Homo sapiens: one gene and its partners. The protein of the gene in region 1 purifies or fractionates together with the protein of each later gene. This does not show direct contact. Each region holds a gene or a part of one and is shown on either strand. Other genes may lie near its edges. The genes, in order: ZNF577, CHAC2 and MAPKAPK5.

Region 1 (4,277 bases):
TGGTTTTAATCATTTGAAATGTATTTAGACTTGCCTGATGGCCAACCATACGGTGACTTTTTATAAATGTCCTATGTGCATCTGAGGAAAATTATTGAGTGCAGTGTTTTATATTGGTCAAGTTTGTTAATTAGGTATGTCATTCTAACCTTTCAGGGGTTGGGACTATTGTGGGTTAGCTGAATGTTTTTGTAAATAATGTTTTATCAGAACACAGCCACACCCATTTGTTTACACATTCTGTACAGCTACTTTCATTCTATAATTGCAGAACCTAGTAGATGCAGACAAGACCATTTAGCCGGCAGAGACTAAAATATTTGTCATCTGTCTGCACCTTTACAGAAAGTTTGCCAGCAATGGTTAATCTATACCCTTTTAGCTTTTTGTCTGCCTGTTCTCTCAGTTACTGAGAGAAGTATGTTAAGAATTTCCCATTATGATTGGGCATTTGCGGTTTCTCCTTGTGTCTAGCATACTCCATTCCTCTATACTTAACACACTAAGTATATGCTCTATTGACTTTTTTTTGAGATGGAGTTTCATTCTTGTTGCCTAGGCTGGAGTGCAATGGCATGATCCCAGCTCACTGCAACTTCTGTCTCCTGGGTTCAAGTGATTCTCCTGTCTCATCCTCCTGAGTAGCTGGGATTACAGACACCCGCTACCACGCCCTGCTAATTTTTGTATTTAGTAGGGATGGGGTTTCATCATGTTGGCCAGATGTCTCGAACTCCTGATCTCAGGTGATCTATCCGCCTCAGCCTCCCAAAGTGCTGGGATTACAGGCGTGAGCTCTCATGCCCAGCCCTCAATAGAACTTTTATGCACCAAAAGACATGTAGAAAAACGTTCATATCAACAATACTCATAACTCCCATAAGCCATAACAATGTCTCTTGATAGTGGAATGGATAATATGGGGTATAATCATCAATGGAATACTACACAGTAATGAAAAAGAAACGAGCTACTGCTATATGCAGCAACTTAGATGATTTTCACAACAAAAATATTAAGCAAAAGAAGCCAGCCACAAAAGAATGTGTACCTTAGGATTTCATTTATATAAAGATGACAACCAAGCACATCTATGATGTTTTTAAGATAATAATTACCTTTGGAGAGGAGAGAGAAGATGAGGGCTTCTGGGATGCTACATTATTCTATTTTTTTAACCTGGTGATTTTCAAGTATAATCACTTGAAAAAAACTTAAGAGACCAATTTCTCTTATAAATGTATAGGCAAAAAAATTTTTTAACTTTCTACTATGAAAAATTTCAAGCAAAAGAACAGTATACTCAAATTCCACATATTCATCATGTGACTTCAAGAATGACGAACTCACATCTAATTTTGTTTTATCTATACCACCATTCAGTCCCTCTCCAGCAATGGATTATGGATTATTCCGAAGCTAATCCAAGATATCTTTTCATTTTTTGATGCAAAAATATTAAATAAAATTTTAGCAAATAAAATCCAGTCTCATATTAAAAGAACAAACCATTATTGACAAGTATGGTTTATTCCCTCAGGAATACATGAAATTGGGAAATAGAGCAACACAAATCAAAGAAAATTTTAAAGAGAAAAAAATAAATGAAAATAATTGTAATGGTCAAAAGCCCTTAGGAAAGAGAAATAAAAACTTGATAAATCACAGTAATTATTTATTCAGACCATACTACGTACCTAGTACTACACTTTGAACATACTTAAAGAACATTTGCTCACTTAATCTTCATAATGATTCCATGAAAAAGAAACTATGACAGCTTTTTTCCACAAATAAGGAAACTGACTCAGAGATTAACGTACCCAAGTCAGAGGCAGAGGCAGGTACTTCTTACTCCACAGTCCATACACTTGCCACCTGGCTAAAATTATTTGCAGATGACAAAAATGCTCAACTAGAAAAAAGACGTCAATTTATAAGTTATATGTAATGACATGAGTACAATGAAGTGACAGAATAAACATATATATTTTTAACTTCTGTTCTTGTCAACTAAGTAAAATTAGGAACAAAAAAGGAAAGGGGGAGGGGTCTTATGCAAAAAAAAAGTCACGATTTACAACAAAAAGTATTAACTATGTAGAAATAAGCATAACCAGAAATGTCCAAGATACGTATGGAAAAACACTACAGATAGTCAAACAAATAAAAATATTGGGTTAATAGAAATCCATCACATGTTCCTGAAAGTGTTGTATCTAGATCTACATCAATTCTACCCAAATTAAAGCAACCACTTGATGAAACTGCAGCAATTTAAAAAACTCTCAAAGAGCATGTAATATGGGAATACGAAGTTGACAAGATGTTATTAAAGACGAATAAAATTATACCAATACCTAGACACCTGATCCCAACATTAAACATGAAATACACTAAACCAGAGTTATTTTCTGGAGGAGTATTTAAAATGATGGGGATGTTATTACTTGGGTCGCAATGAACCTGAAAACCCATTTTCTACAGAATATACAGCAGCAGGGAAGCAAGGGGACCAGCAGACCCCTTTTTAAGTACGCATGTGATAAGCAATGAACACGAACTGCCCAGAGCAGTCTCCAACACTGACACGATTCGCTTCCCCACCACGACGCCCTAGCGCTACTGTGCAACGAAGACCTCCCAAGCACTGGTTCCAATGCGGAGACCATGGGCTCCCAGACTCTGGGAACTCCAACACGACTGCGAAACGAACTCCGAGCGAGGACTCCCCGAGAGCTCCCCGCAACACGGACCTCACGCGCTAGCGAACAACAGAAAAAAAAAAGCGCGCTCTCCCTGCCCCTGAAACATTCCCAGAAGCCCACGCAGACCAGACCGATGACCTGTCTCCACTGCTGGAGGCGAGTCAGGGACCCGAAGTCTCTAAACACTCGCCTCTACCCGCCGCCCCGCGAACCCCACACACTGCAGACGCGACACTCGCAAGTTTCGGGGATGGCGGCCGGCGAGGGCCATACTGCGTCTTTCCGGAGACACGGAATACGGCACCAGCCGTCCCTTTATGATGCAATATGTCTGCGCCCAGGGGACGCTTGCTGGGAGCAGCCATTTTCAACCCTACTGCCGTAGAGCAGGCGGAGTCCCTCTTTTCGCGCCTTAAGACAGGTAGGTTCTGACGATGAAAAGCAATTGAAAACGACCCATTTCACCCTTTTTCCAGTCCACGTGAACTGCTAGATCTTGGCTTTGCAACATTAGCCAGGGGCGCTACATAAACTGCTTAGTTTCTCAAAGGCTCAAGCCTGCCCTGATCTGTCTACAGGATGGGTAGAGATGGTCACAGACATTTAGGCACTTTGATCCTAAGAAGAATGGAAAGAAACCATGTGGCGCGGCAGTCTTACAGGAATTTCAAGAGGGAGGGACCTGAGCAACAATCGGAGGGGTTATTACTCCTGAGGATGCATCTGGCTGGAGAAAGCAGCCTTTGAGAACTGCCTAAGAAGTATCTTTACATCTACATCAGATGTAGCCTCAGAGGAAGGAGTCAGTCATAGAATGGATAAAACAACCGCGTGTTAAAGCTTTGGTTATAATTGGTGTGGAGAATGGAGAACACAGTTGATCAGCAGTTGACAAAGTGGGGAACCAACACGAAAACAGGGCTCTCTCACCCTGGAAAAGCCAAAGGCAGAACAAGCCTTTACATCCAGGAAGGTGGGAGCAACTTGAAATCAAAACTCTGAAGGGGAGATGATTCTGTTCAATACTGAAACTCAGCTGATCAATTAACTGATGAATTCTAGCACCAAACCTGCTCCCTATAATTTTATAACCAGCCTCAGAGAACCTTTAAAGGGATTGATCATTCACTCATTTATCCAGCGAATGTTTATAAAATGCCTAATGTGTCAAACACTGTTGTGCGTGCTGGGAATACAACAGTTGGAAATTCAGGCACAAAGACTCTCATTCATGGAGATTACATTCTACTGGCAATTTCAGTGTGTGAGCTAAATTGAGTGGTGCTAACTGTTGACTTGGCTGGTTGACTGAAACTTGGACTCAAAATTTGCCTACACTAAATGAAGTTTAAATGCCAGAAATTTCCTCATATATTATAAAGTACCCAAAGATAAATGGAGTTTGGAATGCTAGAATGAATTTATCATGTAAAATCAAGATTACCCATACCTCAAATATGTATTCCAGTAGCATCTAGAAGACAATCTCTTCACTGACACTGATCTGGTCACAGGAAATAGAGATATACTACTGTAAGATTATTTTATTATACAGTAAGTGATATAATG
Region 2 (2,600 bases), on another chromosome or scaffold:
TTTAATTTGGTCTTTTTCTTTAATAACGGGACTGAAATGAAAAATATGAGCCTTTCACTTGGTCATTAAAAAATTCTAGAAACAAAGTGCCATTTGTTTATTAACTGTTTAATTAGGAGTTATAAGTTACCAATTTGAAGATCTTTTTTATAAATGCTTTTCGTAGTATCAATTATGAAAGCATTTCCTAATCCACACCATTATTTATCTGCCATTACTAACTGCTTGATTTTTGTTTATTAAAGTCCTTTCCAAAGTTAAACATTTAATTTCACAATATAAAATTCTGAATCTGTACCCCAATAAAATGACTGAAAATATTTAAGAAACTGAGGATTGTTGGTTAAATAAAACTTTCTGGTGCTCCAAACCAGTTTTAAAATCACAGGTTCTACTGGGGTCTACGGGAGGGTGGAGGGTGGGAGGAGGGAGAGGATCTAGAAAAATAACTAATTGATACTAGGCTTAATGTTAATACCTGGGTGATGAAATAATCTGTACAACAAACCCCCATGACACATGTTTACCTATGTAACAAACTTGCACATCCTGCACATGTACTCCTGAACTTAAAAACAAAAACACAAAACACAACACACAGGTGCTATTGATACAATTAAGCAATAAAGAAAATAAGAATTCCTCACTTAGATTTCTGCTGAAAATGAGACTGGTAGCAAAAGTGAAGAGAGCTTTTAAGGGTTCCATTTAATTCTCGGTGGTAGTCTGGCTGTCGGGGGCAGGTATTTCCGTTAATGTCAAAGGGGACCACAAAATTCTTAGTTAATAAACTTGTTTTTAAAAAAATCCCACGGCTGGGCGCGGTGGCTCATGCCTGTAATCCCAGCACTTTGGGAGGCCAAGGCGGGCGGATCACGAGGTCGGGAGATTGAGACCATCCTGGCTAACACGGTGAAACCTCGTCTCTACTAAAAATACAAAAAATTAGCCAGACATGGTGGCGGGCGCCTGTAGTCCCAGCTACTTGGGAGGCTGAGGCAGGAGAATGGCGTGAACCCGGGAGGCGGAGCTTGCAGTGAGCCGAGATCGCGCCACTGCACTCCAGCCTGGGCGACAGAGCTAGACTCTGTCTCAAAAAACCCCACAAAAACGAAAACTACATGCTATTTGTCTGTACGTTGTTGTCTACCTTGCACTCTGCATTCTAACTTTTCTTATTGGCCTCAGTTTTCACAAACACAAAAAAAACCCACAAATACAGAGAAGAATTCTAAATTTAGGGTAGTTCAAATTGTCTGTGATGATTGTTAATCAAATTGAAACAGAAACATCGCAACATTTTATAAAATTAAAATTATACAAAAAAGAATATTTATACCATACCGCAGGATCTTCAACAAGAGTCACAACTCTTCCAGGCTGTTTTAAAAAGGTAAAAAAAAATTTTTCTGAATTAATAAAGTTCATTAAGTAGCTGAGCATTAGCAACATTTTTGACATGGAATATTTGAATTATATTTGCTCATAAGAAGCACTATTTCTTAAGCATAGTTATTTTTTATGATAAAGCTTAAGTGAATTAAGAGAACCTACCTTATCTAGAGACTGTGTTGGCCTTTCTAAAAGATTTCCATCAATTTATACGTATTAGGTATATTATATTCACTTTACATGGATATATTGGAAAACATACCAGTAACTAAAGGTCATCTAAAATGAAAGGCAAATGGAAGCAGTAATTATAAATATTCTGGTTTTTCCCTTAAGGAAAAAAGAATGTTATAGTTTTATTTATTTATTTATTTATTTTTTGAGACGGAGTTTTGCTCAACAAGCCCAGGCTGGAGTGCAGTGGTGCGATCTTGGCTCACTGCAACCTCCAACTCTCGGGCTCAAGCAATTCTCTCACCTCAGCCTCCTGAGTAGTTGGGATTACAGGTGCCCGCCAAGACACCCAGCTAATTTTTGTATTTTTAGTAGAGACGGGTTTACCATGTTGGCCAGGCTGGTATGGAACTCCTGACCTTAGGTAATCCACCCGTCTCGGCCTCCCAAAGTGCTGGGATTACAGGCGTGAGCCACCGCACCCGGCCTATAGTTTTATTAGGGGAAAAAAAATATGACATAAAGGGTGCTTTCCTATATATAGGGAAGTGACTTTCAAATTTAGTGGATCAAAATGACCTAGAGGGCTTGACAAAGACATTGTTAGGCCACACCTCCAGAGTTTTTGATTCTGTAGGTCTGGAGCTGTCTAAGAATTTGCATTTGTAACAACTTTCCTGCTGATTTCAGAAATTGTTCTGGGGCTCATACTTTAAGAACCACTGCTACCAGGGGATATTAAGAGGTTTTAAGTGAGAGAGAATGAGTGATTTACACTTCTGAGTTATGAAGTGTTCTTACCTTTCTGTATATGGTAATGGTGCTTCAAGGTAGGCATTTCTTTTACATTCATAAATGAACTTTACTTTGCCCTATTTAAAGGTCAGTATTAGAACTGGCCTATTCGTGTAGTTCTTATATGGGACAATCAGACCACTTGTGTTCTAGGCAATTTTATTTTCCCATTTTGGTTTTAACACAGGTCAGTTAACAATATTATGGAAAGCTTCACTTTTTACTATTCAACTTGAGGT
Region 3 (3,654 bases), on another chromosome or scaffold:
GTAGAAGAGGTGAAGGGCATGGAAAGGAAGGCAGGAGAGGCAGGCACATCTGGTGTAACATTACAAAAATACATCCTCATTTCTGTCTGACTTTTTTGCTTTTCCATTTCTCTAAAAACATTTCTATACAATACTAATCCTTCTTCCACCATTTGCTTTCACTTCAGTGCCAGTATCACAGAAGGTTCCATTCCATATTCCATAAACAAAGCTAAAGGAAGTCTTGAATAATTGGAACCCTTCTGGCAAATTGTCTAATGTCAATTTTTTCCTGCCCCTGTTTCTTGTACATCTTATTCCTTACTGTCTGGCACAGAAGCACTCATCTCCATCAAGTCATCTTCTATTAATTCCTCAGGTGTGGTGTCTATTAGCTCTTGAATTTCTCCAAGATCTGTACCTTAAAACTCTTCACCCTTCACCTTTTTTGCCATATCCACAATCTCTTTCATGATTTCCTTAACCAGCTCTGTCATAAATCCTATGAAGTCACGCACATCTGGACAGAGTTTTCTCCACCAGGAATTTATTGTTTCAGGCCTGATGGCTTCCACAGCTTTTTCCATAACAATGGCATCTTCAGTGGTGTAATCCCTCTAGACTTTCACTACATTCTATCAGGATTCTCTTCCTTGGTGTTAACAATCTTTTCCAGAGTATCCCATGTAATGAGTCTTGAAAGTCCTGGACCAGGTGCGGCAGCTGAAGCCTGTAATCCCAGCACTTTGGGAGGCTGAGGCAGGCAGATCACTTGAGGCCAGGAGTTCGAGACCAACCTGGGCAAAATGGTGAAACCTCATCTCTCCTAAAAATACAAAAATTAGCCAGGCATTGTGGAGCATGCCTGTAATTCCAGCTTCTCGAGAGGCTGAGGCATGAGAATTGCTTGAACCTGGGAGGCAGAGGTTGAAGTGAGCTGAGATCACCCCACTGCACTCCAACCTGGACAACAGAGCCAGACTCTTTCTCAAAAAGTCCTTGAGACCTCCTGATCTACAGGCTGGATTAGAGACACTGTTTGTGGACAAGTAGACCACTTCAAAGCCTAGTGTTGAACTCATGGGATTCTCAGTGGCCAGGGGCATTGTGTCAAAAAAACTTTAAAAGGCAGTCCTGGCCGGGCACGGTGGCTCATGCCTGTAATCCCAGCACTTTGGGAGGCCGAGGCAGGCGGATCACTTGAGGTTAGGAGTTCAAGACCAGCCTGGCCAACATGCTGAAACCCTGTCTCTACTAAAATACAAAAATTAGCTGGGCGTGGTGGCAGGCAACTATAATCCCAGCTACTCGGGAGGCTGAGGCAGGAGAATGGTGTGAACCCAGGAGGCAGAGCTTGCAGTGAGCCGCGATCGTGCCACTGCACTCCAGCCTGGGCCACAGAGCGAGACTCCTCTCAAAAAAAAAAAAAAAAAAGAAAATGGGTTCTCATTATCCAGGCTTTCTTTTGGTAAAAACAGACTGGCAGCTGGTGTTTTATCTTCTCCCTTGAAGGCTCAGAGGTTAGCAGCTTTATAGACCAGGGTAGTCCTGATCATAAACTTGACTGTGTTTACACAAAACGGCAGTTAACCTAGCTCTTCCTGCCTTAAATCCTGGCACTCACTGCTCTTCCTTACTCATAAATGTCCTTTGTGGCATTGTTTTCCCCAGAACAGGGCATTTTTGTCTGCATTAAAAACCCATTCAAGCAGATATCCTTTCTCCTCAATGATTTTCTTAATGGCATCTGGGAACTTGTTTGCCGCCTCTTGGTCAGCAGAAGCTGCTTCTCCTGTTACCCTGACATTTTTTTAAGCCAAACCTCTCTACAGTTATCAAACCATCCTTTGCTGGCATTAAATTCTCCAACTTTAGATCCTTTACCTTCCTTTTAAGACACAATGACTTTTTCTCGAAAAATATTAGAGTCTATAGTTATGCCTTTCTTATAGCACTCTCGCACCCACGTAAAAGCTGCATCTTCAATATGAAATAAAAAGGTATTTTGGCCAGGCACAGTTGCTCATGCCTGTAATCCCAGCACTTTGGGAGGCCGATGCAGGCAGATCACAAGGTCAGGAGTTCGAGACCAGCCTGGCCAACATGGTGAAACCCCGTCTCTATTAAAAAGACAAAAATTAGGCGGGCATGGTGGCACCCACCTGTAATCCCAGCTACTTGGGAGGCTAAGGCAGGAGAACTGCTTGAACCTGGGAGGCAGAGGTTGCAGTGAGCCAAGATCACGCCACTACACTCCAGCCTGGTCAACAGAGCAAGTCTCCATCTATGAAAAAAAAAAGGATATTTCACAACCAGTCGTGGTGGTTCATGCCTATAATTCTAGCACTTTGGAAGGCCAAAGTGTGACGACTGCTTGAGCTCAAGAGCTGGAGACCAGCCTGGGCTACACAGTGGGACCCGTGTCTCTACAAAAAAAAAAGTTATTTTAATTAGCCAAACATGGTGGTAGACACCTGTGGTCCCAGCTACTCAGGAGGCTGAGGAGGGAGAATCACTTAAGCCTAGAAGGACATGGCTGCAGCGAACTGTGATCGCATCACTACACTCCAGCCTGGGTGATGGAGTGAGACTGTCCTAACAAAATAAAAGAAAAAGAAAAAAATGTGCTAAACTGGACTTCATAAAATTTAAAACCTTTTGCTCTTCAAAAGACACCATTATAAAATGAAAAGATAAGCCACAGACTGGGAGAAAATATTTGCCAATCACATAGCTGATAAATGACTTTTATTCAGTTTATAAAGAACTCTAGGCCAGGTGCGGTGGCTGACGCCTGCAATCCCAGCACTTTGGGAGGCCGAGGCAGGCAGATCACAAGGTCAGGAGTTTAAGACAAGCCTGGCCAACATGGCAAAACTAAAATTTTTAGTCTCTACTAAAAATACAAAAATTAGCTAGGCATGGTGGTGGATGCCCATAATCCCAGCTACTTGGGAGGCTGAGGCAGGAGAATCACTTGAACCCGGGAGGTGGAGGTTGCAGTGAGCCAAGATCGTGCCATTGCACTCCAGCCTAGGCAACAAGAGCAGCAAGACTTTGTCTCAGAAAAAAAAAAAAGAAAGAAAAAAAAAAGAACTCTTGGCCAGGTGCAGTAATCCTAGCACTTCAGGAGGCTGAGGCAGGCAGATCGCTTGAGCCCAGGAGTTCAAGACCAGCCTGGGCAACATTGTGAGACCCCATCTCTAAAAAAATTAATAAAAAAATAAATAAATAATCCTATAACTCAATAAGGCAAAGAAATCAATTTTAGGCTGGGCATGGTGGTTCACATCTGTAATCCCAGCACTTTGGGAGGCCAAGGCAGGCGGATCACTTGAGGTCAGAAGTACGAGACCACCTGGTCAACATGGTGAAGACCTCATCTCTACTAAAAATACAAAAAATAAATAAAAAAATAAAAATACAAATACAAAAAATTAGCTGGGCATGGTGGCGCATGCCTGTAATCCCAGCTACTTAGGAGGCTGAGGCAGGAGAATCGCTTGAACCCCGGAGGAAGAGGTTGCAGTGAGCCAAGGTCGTACCACTGCATTCCAGCCTGAGTGACAAAGCGAGACTCCATCTCAAAACAAAAAAAAGCAATTCTAAAACGGGCAAAAAGAGGCCGAGCACAGTGGCTCATGCCTATAATCCTAGCATTTTGGAGGCCAAGGT

Evidence for each region.
Region 2: the proteins of ZNF577 (region 1) and CHAC2 purify together in Homo sapiens (affinity purification with mass spectrometry; one large-scale study listed by BioGRID and IntAct). This does not show direct contact.
Region 3: the proteins of ZNF577 (region 1) and MAPKAPK5 purify together in Homo sapiens (affinity purification with mass spectrometry; one large-scale study listed by BioGRID and IntAct). This does not show direct contact.

The regions. Positions count from the first base shown.
Region 1 is NC_000019.10:51,884,998-51,889,274, forward strand, and holds the start of ZNF577 (zinc finger protein 577), read right to left. Parts: upstream 2,955-4,277; 5' UTR 1,824-2,954; intron 1-1,823. UniProt on the Homo sapiens protein: May be involved in transcriptional regulation.
Region 2 is NC_000002.12:53,770,687-53,773,286, reverse strand, and holds part of CHAC2 (glutathione-specific gamma-glutamylcyclotransferase 2), read right to left. Parts: intron 1,381-2,600; coding exon 1,345-1,380; exon of another isoform or gene 1,343-1,344; coding exon of another isoform or gene 1,340-1,342; intron 1-1,339. UniProt on the Homo sapiens protein: Catalyzes the cleavage of glutathione into 5-oxo-L-proline and a Cys-Gly dipeptide. Acts specifically on glutathione, but not on other gamma-glutamyl peptides.
Region 3 is NC_000012.12:111,848,659-111,852,312, reverse strand, and holds part of MAPKAPK5 (MAP kinase-activated protein kinase 5), read right to left. Parts: intron 1-3,654. UniProt on the Homo sapiens protein: Tumor suppressor serine/threonine-protein kinase involved in mTORC1 signaling and post-transcriptional regulation. Phosphorylates FOXO3, ERK3/MAPK6, ERK4/MAPK4, HSP27/HSPB1, p53/TP53 and RHEB.